Homo sapiens: one gene and its partner. The protein of the gene in region 2 interacts with the protein of the main gene of each other region in a pairwise test. Each region holds a gene or a part of one and is shown on either strand. Other genes may lie near its edges.

Region 1 (4,613 bases), on a different chromosome or scaffold from region 2:
AATCCTCAGTTCCTGAGCACAGATAGCACCAACACACCACACTTGTCTATCTGCCTCTTGAGATTCTGGAGAGAAGGGAAACTTACTCTTAGCATTCCACCAGCAAGAATTCTCCATTACGAACCACCACAACTATATTTATACTGAGCAGAGGGGTGGTAGGCAGTGCAACTGCAGTCAATTGCACTGCAAATTGAAAGCTGAAAGCATGCCCACTTCTCCTTGCATACCTTTTTTCTACCAGGCATTATAAAAACTGAGGAAAGTATATGTGAATTTTATTCCGTACTTGGGAAGTTGTAAGAGCTCATCCTTACCAACCCTCTGATTTAAATAACTTACTTCAAATTTCTAGATAAAACACCAGTATCCATTCCTTGGGTAAAAGAACCAAAGGGCTGAGAATTAAAGTATAGTGCTTATATTAAGTCACATGACCATATGCATTAAGTTGAGGAATTGTTTACTTACCGCTTAATAATATGTTCAAAGATAAAAGCAGGCATGATTGTAATAGTAACTACAGTCCCAGATGTTGACAGTATGTCTGCAATTTGAGAGTCCTGATAAAAACACATATTAAAAATTAATTCCACAGAGGCTTTATTTAATAAATACAAAACTATGCCAGTCTTGGTAAAGAAATACAAAATATATGTCTTGGTATTTCTAATTTTTTCTAGTATTTCTTACCAAGTTTAATTGTACACTATTTTACAGCTAGTAACCAAATTGCTTAAGTAAACTGAGTTGAATATTTTAACCAAAAAAAAACTTTTCCTTTCTGAATATTAGATAATTTTCCCCATATACAATATTACCATCTCCTCTTATTAACTGTGTATTCTAAATCAAATTCTATGAAATGAGGAGGTCATGCTTAAAACTTTTTGACCTTAAGACAGACTTATTTAGGAATTTGTGGAGGAGAAAAACTATAAAAATAAAGTATTAATATGAACCAAAACTATTATTCATTTCCTTATATTCCTGGATTGAGAAATGCTGGGCCACTATTCATATTCTAAATCTTTGTTGCCCATATTTCCACAGAATTCTAGTGTGAGGTACTTCTGAGATCATTTATTCCAGCCCACTTGTTATAGGAACTGTAGTTCTAGATGACAGCCCAAATAATTCCGGTGACTGGCCAGACCAAGAGTTCAGGCCCCACGTTCCCCATCTCCCACCTAAGTCAATATGAAAACAGCGCCACCTAAATACAGTCAAAAGACAGACATTTTCTAAAACTGCAGCAGAACATGGCACAAAGTCTGTTCCTTACCTTCAATCCAATGACATTCTGTCCATTGATTTCACAGATGTTATGTTCCGTGAGAAGACCATTTCTGGCTGCAGAGCTATCTTTCACTATGGATGTTATTTTTCCATTTTTAAAGATAAAACCAACATGTCCAGTGCTATCCTTATGCATGGTAATCGTCCGTTCAAAGGGCCTACAAACATAATTGGTTCAATTAAAAACTTAATTCTAAGCTAAACATTTTAATGGATTTCATATAGCATAAATGTTGCCATATTGGATACTTTTATAATAAACACTGTTTCTAATAAGAGCAACTTATGGCTCTGATTTTATACATTCACGGAACATCTTTGTGTAAAAGTTTTTTTTAAGTTTATTCATTATGGTTTGACTGATTTACTAATCAACATTTCCTTCTTTAAGTATAAAAGACAACTGCTTTATATGGTTTTATCAATATGTTTTTCTTTTATAATTAGACTTTACAGCATTAAGAATGACATAGGCTTTTTAACTAAATCACAGTGGTAAAGATAATTTTTATTTTTTATTAACTTTTGGTATTTTCTAGAGCCAAATCATTTTTAGGACTATTTCTTTTATTTAAAACCTTTAAAATATTTCTCACATCTTGATTTTGAAAATTTTATACATTGCTATCTTTGAAAAGAAAAACTAGAGCAGCAGTAAGACTTAAGTTCCTCAAGCCCCTTTGGAAAGGGAGGCATGCAGCTATTATTAAAAGGCATCCAGCTGTCCCTCTAGAGTTGTTATAGCAGTCACATTTGCTTGATTCTCTATAAACTCTGTTATCATGTTATCATAAGGGTTTTAGGATCAACTTGTGTTTACATTATTAAATTCAGAAGAGGCATTTCTTCCTGTTAGTACAACTTACTCTTTGAAACTCTGCTTAGATAGAAAGTAAAAAGGACATTCATCTGAAACATTTACGAAATACCTAAACTGAATGAGAAACTGGAAACACAAAGATAAAACAGAAGTTTCACTGAGAAGGAACAAAAACTCAAAGCTTACTGTAACAATGCAATATACGTCTACCCTTAATTGGGTATGGAGTAGACAAGAAAATAAATGGAGGCCCCTATTTCATGTGCTAAATGTTTAAGTTCTAAATGAATGAGCTGCTAAATAGAATATTCCATGTTCTTGAAAACTACTGCTTCATAACTACCCAAAAGTCTTGATACGGTTTTCAGAACTCCCATACTACTTGGAAGTCTGCATGGGCTCTGACCCTCACAATGAGGGACCACTGTGTGTGAACACCCTAGGCTGGATGTATCTAAGCAGTAAGTTGGAAAGTGAGCCCAGAGATGCCCTGCAACTCAGTTACTTCTCCAACATACGTTTTCTATTTTCTAGAGAGATTTGTCCTATAAACTCTGAAATAAGGTATCGTATCAGAATGCTTTAAAAACAATGTAAGAAAAATCTGCACCACACAACTGCAAGACTATAAGGCTCATCAATAACATTTGATCATTTTCTGCAACAAAATAATATACTCACAAACTCTGAAAGCCCAAAAAAATGGAAAACTAGTATTGAATTTTCATTTGAGCTGTTTAGTAACAGCTTACCTGTCACGAATGGTCATGGTAATCTTCTCTCCAAAAGCCTGTTTGAGCACCTTGTGCGCTTTATCAGAGCTCCATCCTGCACAGTTTTCACCATTGATCTGAAGTACTTGGTCCCCAAATCTCAGACCAACCAATGAGGCTGGAGAATTAGCCTGGACTAGCTGAACAAATATACCCTAGATAATAAGAAAATAATTTTTGTCATTTACCACTACTATGATACGGTTTTAAACGCTGGAAAATTAGGAAACAACTGTTTATGTTGAAAACTCTACCCCAGTGACAAAAAAGAAAGAAAAAGAAAAAAAGGAAAAACTATATGAGTATATTAAGTTATCACCTCAAAAGAAACTGAAAAATTTATCAAGACAGCAACTCCAAAGAATAAGGCAAAAAAGTGAGATTTCAATGGCAATTTCTATACCAAATCATGACCCACCTGACCAACCACAATCCCCCCCTTCAACTTGGAATACAAAACTAAGGAAAATACAGTAGGACAACTTTAATAAATGCAAGCGTCTGAGTCTGATAGAATACCAAATTATCAGTACATAATCATATTTAGGGGAAAAGCGAGTCACATGTTAGAAAGTTTGATGAGTTCTTTTACAGCTTAATAAATGACAGTTTAAGGTCATAATTCTACCTTTTGAGCTGAAGCATTCCTTTACCCATTTGCTAAATTGTGTATAATCAAGTAAGATTAAAGTTTATTTGTTAGACTAAAAAGATGGGCATATTAAATCCACATGCACAGGCTTATAAAGAACACACAATGAAATAAATACAGAAAACTCAAATACTGTTAACCAATAACTACACTCACATGGATATTTTTACTTATGTAAAATCTCAATCAGAAGTTGAACAAAATATAAATAGGTAAGTATAAAAGAAGAATAAGCCTGGTAAAATATAAGTGCATCTACTTCTACAATCCTAAGCTAGGTCACATATTTCTATCACACATCTGTTACATTGTAGAATGATAAGCAAGAACTAGGTAGCACCCCATAAATGAACAAATGCCCTTTGGCCAAGTGAACAAATCCACTGCAACTATTACCTACAGTGGGGCCAAGGGGCCTATGAAAAGTATCTTTTCTCTTTAGGACAGAGGAAAGAACACAAGAGCAATCCTGGCGGAAGGAGCAGCAGTATACTCTATTCCCTGAAGATTCTGGAGAAAGGGCAGCAAAGTCAGAGCATCCCAACTAAGCACGCAGATGTATTTTGAGTGACATACAAGTGAGCAAGGCCATCATCGATGGCCTCAGCCCCCTGGGTGGGCAGGCAGGGCGGGGGCCTCCTGCCAAGATCAGCCTCCTCCATTTACAGCAGTGCACCACACTTATAATTTTCTATGTGGAAAGGCTGGATGCACTAAGCTAGAGATGTATGACTGAAACCGAATCCAATAAGGTAATGGCTAAAACTATAAATTGGGGTAAAGACTCAACATGTCCTTCACAATTATAAATGGTTCCTCAGAGAGTAACCCTGTTTCATATCTTCAGTATGTTAAGGTGAGAGGTAATTATAAAGTAAAGGCTGCCCTAATTAGAAAGAATATTCCATCTTTTTTTACTCAGAAAATGACATATTAAATTCAAATGTGAAGGATGTTAATAACAAATCTGCAAAAACCATCTCACCAGTTAAATACTGATCATTTGGTTTAAAAATGCACACACATCCGGGAGGCAGAGGTTGCAGTGAGTCAAGATCACACCACTGCA
Region 2 (4,388 bases):
GAATTAATTTTAAAAAAAGCATAGAATGGGCTGGGTGCAGTGGCTCATGCCTGTAATCCTAGCACCTTGGGAGGCTGAGATGGGCAGATCACTTGAGGCCAGGTTTCGAGACCAGCCTGGACAACATGGCAAAACCCCATCTCCACTAAAAATGCAAAAATTAGCAGCGTGATGGCACCTGTGGTGCACCTGTAATCCCAGCTACTTGGGAGGCTGAAGCACAAGGATCGCTTGAACTGGGGTGAGCTGGAGGTTGCAGTGACTTGTGATCGTGACACTGCACTCTAGCCTGGGCAACAGAGCAAGATTCTGTCTTAAAAAAATAAAATAAAAAGCATAGAATGTGCAAGTCATATCTGGAGACAACAGTCTTAAAGGGACTGCTACTGAAGCTCCAAATTATTGTTATCAGGCCAATCCTATCTAGGAACTACCTTTATTATATATATTGGATATACCACCCTACGTGCATATATATATATATATATATATATATATATATATATACCATATATATATGGTATATATACCATATATATATGGTATATATACCATATATGGTATATATACCACATATATATATATATACTATATATGGTATATATATATATGGGGTATATATATATGAATAGGGGTGTATATGTAATATGTGTAATGTGTATAATGTGTATTATATGTATAATGGGAGATTACAAAGTGTGTGTGTGTAGGTATATATACCCCCTACCAACACACACACACACACACAGGTATAATGTGCATTACATGTATAATGGGAGATTTTAAAGTGTGTGTGTATTTTAATGTGTGTGTAAAATACACACACACACATTAAAATCTCCCATTAGTTCTGCCTTTTCGTTGAAGGCTGATGATACAGATTTCAACATTGAGATCGGGTTCCCACTACACCAGGGGCTAAGGAAGAGTATGTGTGATATGTCTAGAGAGCTTCTTAGTCCTCCCGTGTTTTTCGATTAGAGTTAATGGAAGATCACAGCAACCCCATCCAGGCAGGACATCTAATGTTTCAGACTCTTCCGTAATGAAGGTTTGAGTCATCCTGCCAGGCCAAGCATCATGACCAACTGACATGCTATCTCAGGGCAAAGGGAATGTGAAATGGGTAGCGAAAGAACGTAGTGATAAATACCAGCTACAACACTGTGAGCTGCTGCAGAAACCACGACTGTAATAGTATTTACCTAATGGGTTAATAATATCTACCAGCACAGGTGGGAATACAAAATAACCAAAACACAAGTTATCCTTTCAAATAAAATGCTTTGGGAAAAAGAACATCTTTTACTAACAGAAATTTCTTAGCCTCTGGAAGGCTATTTGATTCGGTAACATATGCCAGGAGACTTCAGCAATATCCTGCTCCATTGTAGAAAACAGCAATCTGATCCTTTTCTCTCCTCAATCATTAACGAGATTATGCATTTGGGGTGTGATAATCCTCCAGGGACAAGTATTCTCAAATCATACGTTTCAGTTTCTTCTTAAGGTGCTTAACAAAGTCTCGTCTCATACATCTGAAAAGAAAGAGACATGTCATTAACCAAAAGATAGCTAAAGAACCTATGCTGTAGGAAGCACTGTGATGGATAGAAAGATGAAGTAACAGTCAGCATGGAAATAGAAATGTATCTGCATGGTAAGAGGCAGTCTAGCCGGCATAACAAATGCTGGCAAGGGTGTGGAGAAAAGGGAACCTTCATACACTGTTGGTGAGAATATAAATTACTACAACAACTAACTATGAAGAACAGTTTGGAGGTTCCTCAAACAACTAAAAATGGAGCTATCATATGATCCAGCAATCCCACTGCTGGGTATATACCCAAGAGAAAGGAAGTCAGTGTACCGAACAGATATCTGCACTCCCATGTTTGTTGCAGCACCATCCACAGTAGCCAAGATTTGGAAGCAACCTAAGTGTCCACTAACACATGAATGGGTAAAGAAAATATGGTACATATACACCACAGAGTACTGTTTAGCCATAAAAAAAAGAATGAGATTCAGTCATTTGCAACAACACGGATAGAACCGAAGGTCCTTATGTTAAGTGAAATAAGCCAGGCACAGAAAGACAAACTTCACATGTTCTCACTTATTTTTGGGAGTAAAAGTGTAAAACAACTGAACTAATGGAGATAGAGAGTAGAATGACAGTTACCAGAGGCTACAAAGGTTAGTGGGGGTGGAGGGTGTGGGAAGTGGGGATGATTAATACGTAGAAGTATGGAATAAATAAGATGTCGTATTTCATAGCCAAACAGGGTGACTATAGTCGGTAATAATTTAATTGCACATTTAAAAATAATGAAGAGTATAATTGTATTCTCTGTAACGCAAAGGATAAAAGCTTGAGGTGATAGAAACCCCACTTACCTTGATGTGATTATTACACATTGTTGTCTGTATCACAATATCTCATATAGCCCAGAAATATATGCATCTGCTATGTGCCTACACAAATTTTTTAAAAAGAGGTAGTCTAGCAAATACAAAGAGTGTCAATTGAGGGACAATGCGCACCTCAGACTATGGTGAAAATGGAAGTCTCCATAGTCTTCGAAGAATGAGTTACACTCAGATAACATTAGCCTAAGTAACTGTGGAGACAGCCATAACTGTGAGTGAGGACCAGGGTTTGAGAAACGCAAGGCAGGGGCTGTTCCCCAACGCTCACCCCCAGTGCTCTATTGAGCCCAAGTGCTTAAAGAAATTGGACAGTTCCTATTTCTACCCACCTTGCTGCTTCCTTGATGATGGATTCAAAAAATCGCTTCCTGACTGCAGTAGGTCCTTGCACTCCTTCAAGCATTTCGAAGATTTTTTCATATTCTGAAGATGTTGAAAAAAAAAAACTTCAGTATTATCAAATATAAAGAAGAATAGAAGTGAATCTACACCTCAGCAATCATGCTTCAGAGGCTGAAATGTTTTAAATGCTTAAATCAAGATACCTGCACATACAAAACCTAAATAATAAAAAAGACACCTGCACATACATACGAATGTAACTCCTTTAACCATAACCAAGTAAGAAAAGAAAAAGAAAAAATGTACATGCTTTAGTCAAAGAAAAGAGGAACCACCATAAATTATGTGCAATCTCAACTCTGGCAAAGAATGAAACTCAACAGGCAACATGAATATCTTCTGAATCATAGAAAGAGAGACTTCCTATAGTTTTATAAAACAGACATTCTTATATTACTTACTTTGTCCAACGCATCGGAGTTCCTTCACTAATTTACGTTTTATATCAGCATTAATTTCTCGTTGGCTTTTGGGAGAGGAGGCTGTTTCTCTGCATTCTAGGTCATCTCCAGAGAAACTGCTGGTAACGTTTCCTCCCACAGGTGCATTGCTACCAGGTTTCTGCATCATCCTATCTTTGCTGAAACCAGTGAAGTCATCAATCTGAGAATCCAATTGGCTGGGTGGAATAGCATGTCCTGTCATAAGCTCTGGTGAAACAGATTTTGAGTAAAAGCCATCAGTTGGTGTTTGACCACTTTCTTTCCCCTCCACATAGACCTCATGAATGACAGCTCTGGAAATCAAACTGAGAAGCTGAGCTGTGAGATATGTGTGTTTCATCACCCCTCTGGGTACATCTATGTGCTCCTCAGTTTCTAGGGAATTATTTATTTCATAAATGGGAGGATACACCAGGGAGAAATCCCAGGCCTGACAAACGGAGGCCAGGACACATAATACAATAAAACCACCTCTTATTTTCTGGCCCTATGAATAGACATGGAAACCAAGTAAGGCAGTACAACTCTAAAGCAACATTCACAGATCCCTGGTACTCATGGGACAGTTTCAGCTTGTTATGCTTTACAAGTTGAAAGCAGCAAGTCTCACTTGATATCATGATTTCTCAAACTCACTTACAAACTGCCATGCTTTACTGAGCTGGAACCCAGGCAACTGGGATACAACTCAACCGGTCTCCTGTTATATCAAACACATTCTGAGAAAATAGAGGCGGCCATTACTGCTAAAAGTTCTATACGCACTCCACCACCAAAAAGTCCCTTTTACTGTATGATTTTCCTCATCCTTCCTTTCTGTCTCACAAAAGTGACTTTCTTTTCACTCCAGGTCTGACACCTCTCATTTATTCATCGTCTGTGGCAGGCAGCGTGCCGGTAGCTGGGGATCAGCAGTAAACAGCCCAGAGAGCAACGTTCCCTGCCCTTGTGGAGCTCACATCCTCATGGGGCGGTCAGACAGTACGTGCACAATGAGCAAATGAAACATACAGTGTTGGGCTAGTGGTAAGGAAGCAGTCCACAGGCCTGTGGGCAACAGCAGCAGAGGGAGCCCCAGGAGCTGCTGCTGGTTGGGCAGAGCCTTCTGTG

Evidence for each region. The genes of interacting proteins can lie anywhere in the genome.
Region 1: the proteins of CT45A3 (region 2) and SDCBP interact in binary tests that used the Homo sapiens proteins (3 or more experiments, as listed by UniProt).

What each region holds. Positions count from the first base shown.
Region 1 is NC_000008.11:58,576,467-58,581,079, reverse strand, and holds part of SDCBP (syntenin-1), read right to left. Parts: intron 3,048-4,613; coding exon 2,872-3,047; intron 1,458-2,871; coding exon 1,286-1,457; intron 564-1,285; coding exon 472-563; intron 1-471. UniProt on the Homo sapiens protein: Multifunctional adapter protein involved in diverse array of functions including trafficking of transmembrane proteins, neuro and immunomodulation, exosome biogenesis, and tumorigenesis.
Region 2 is NC_000023.11:135,758,872-135,763,259, forward strand, and holds the end of CT45A3 (cancer/testis antigen family 45 member A3), read right to left. Parts: intron 3,486-4,388; coding exon 3,237-3,485; intron 2,857-3,236; coding exon 2,763-2,856; intron 1,539-2,762; coding exon 1,481-1,538; 3' UTR 1,173-1,480; downstream 1-1,172.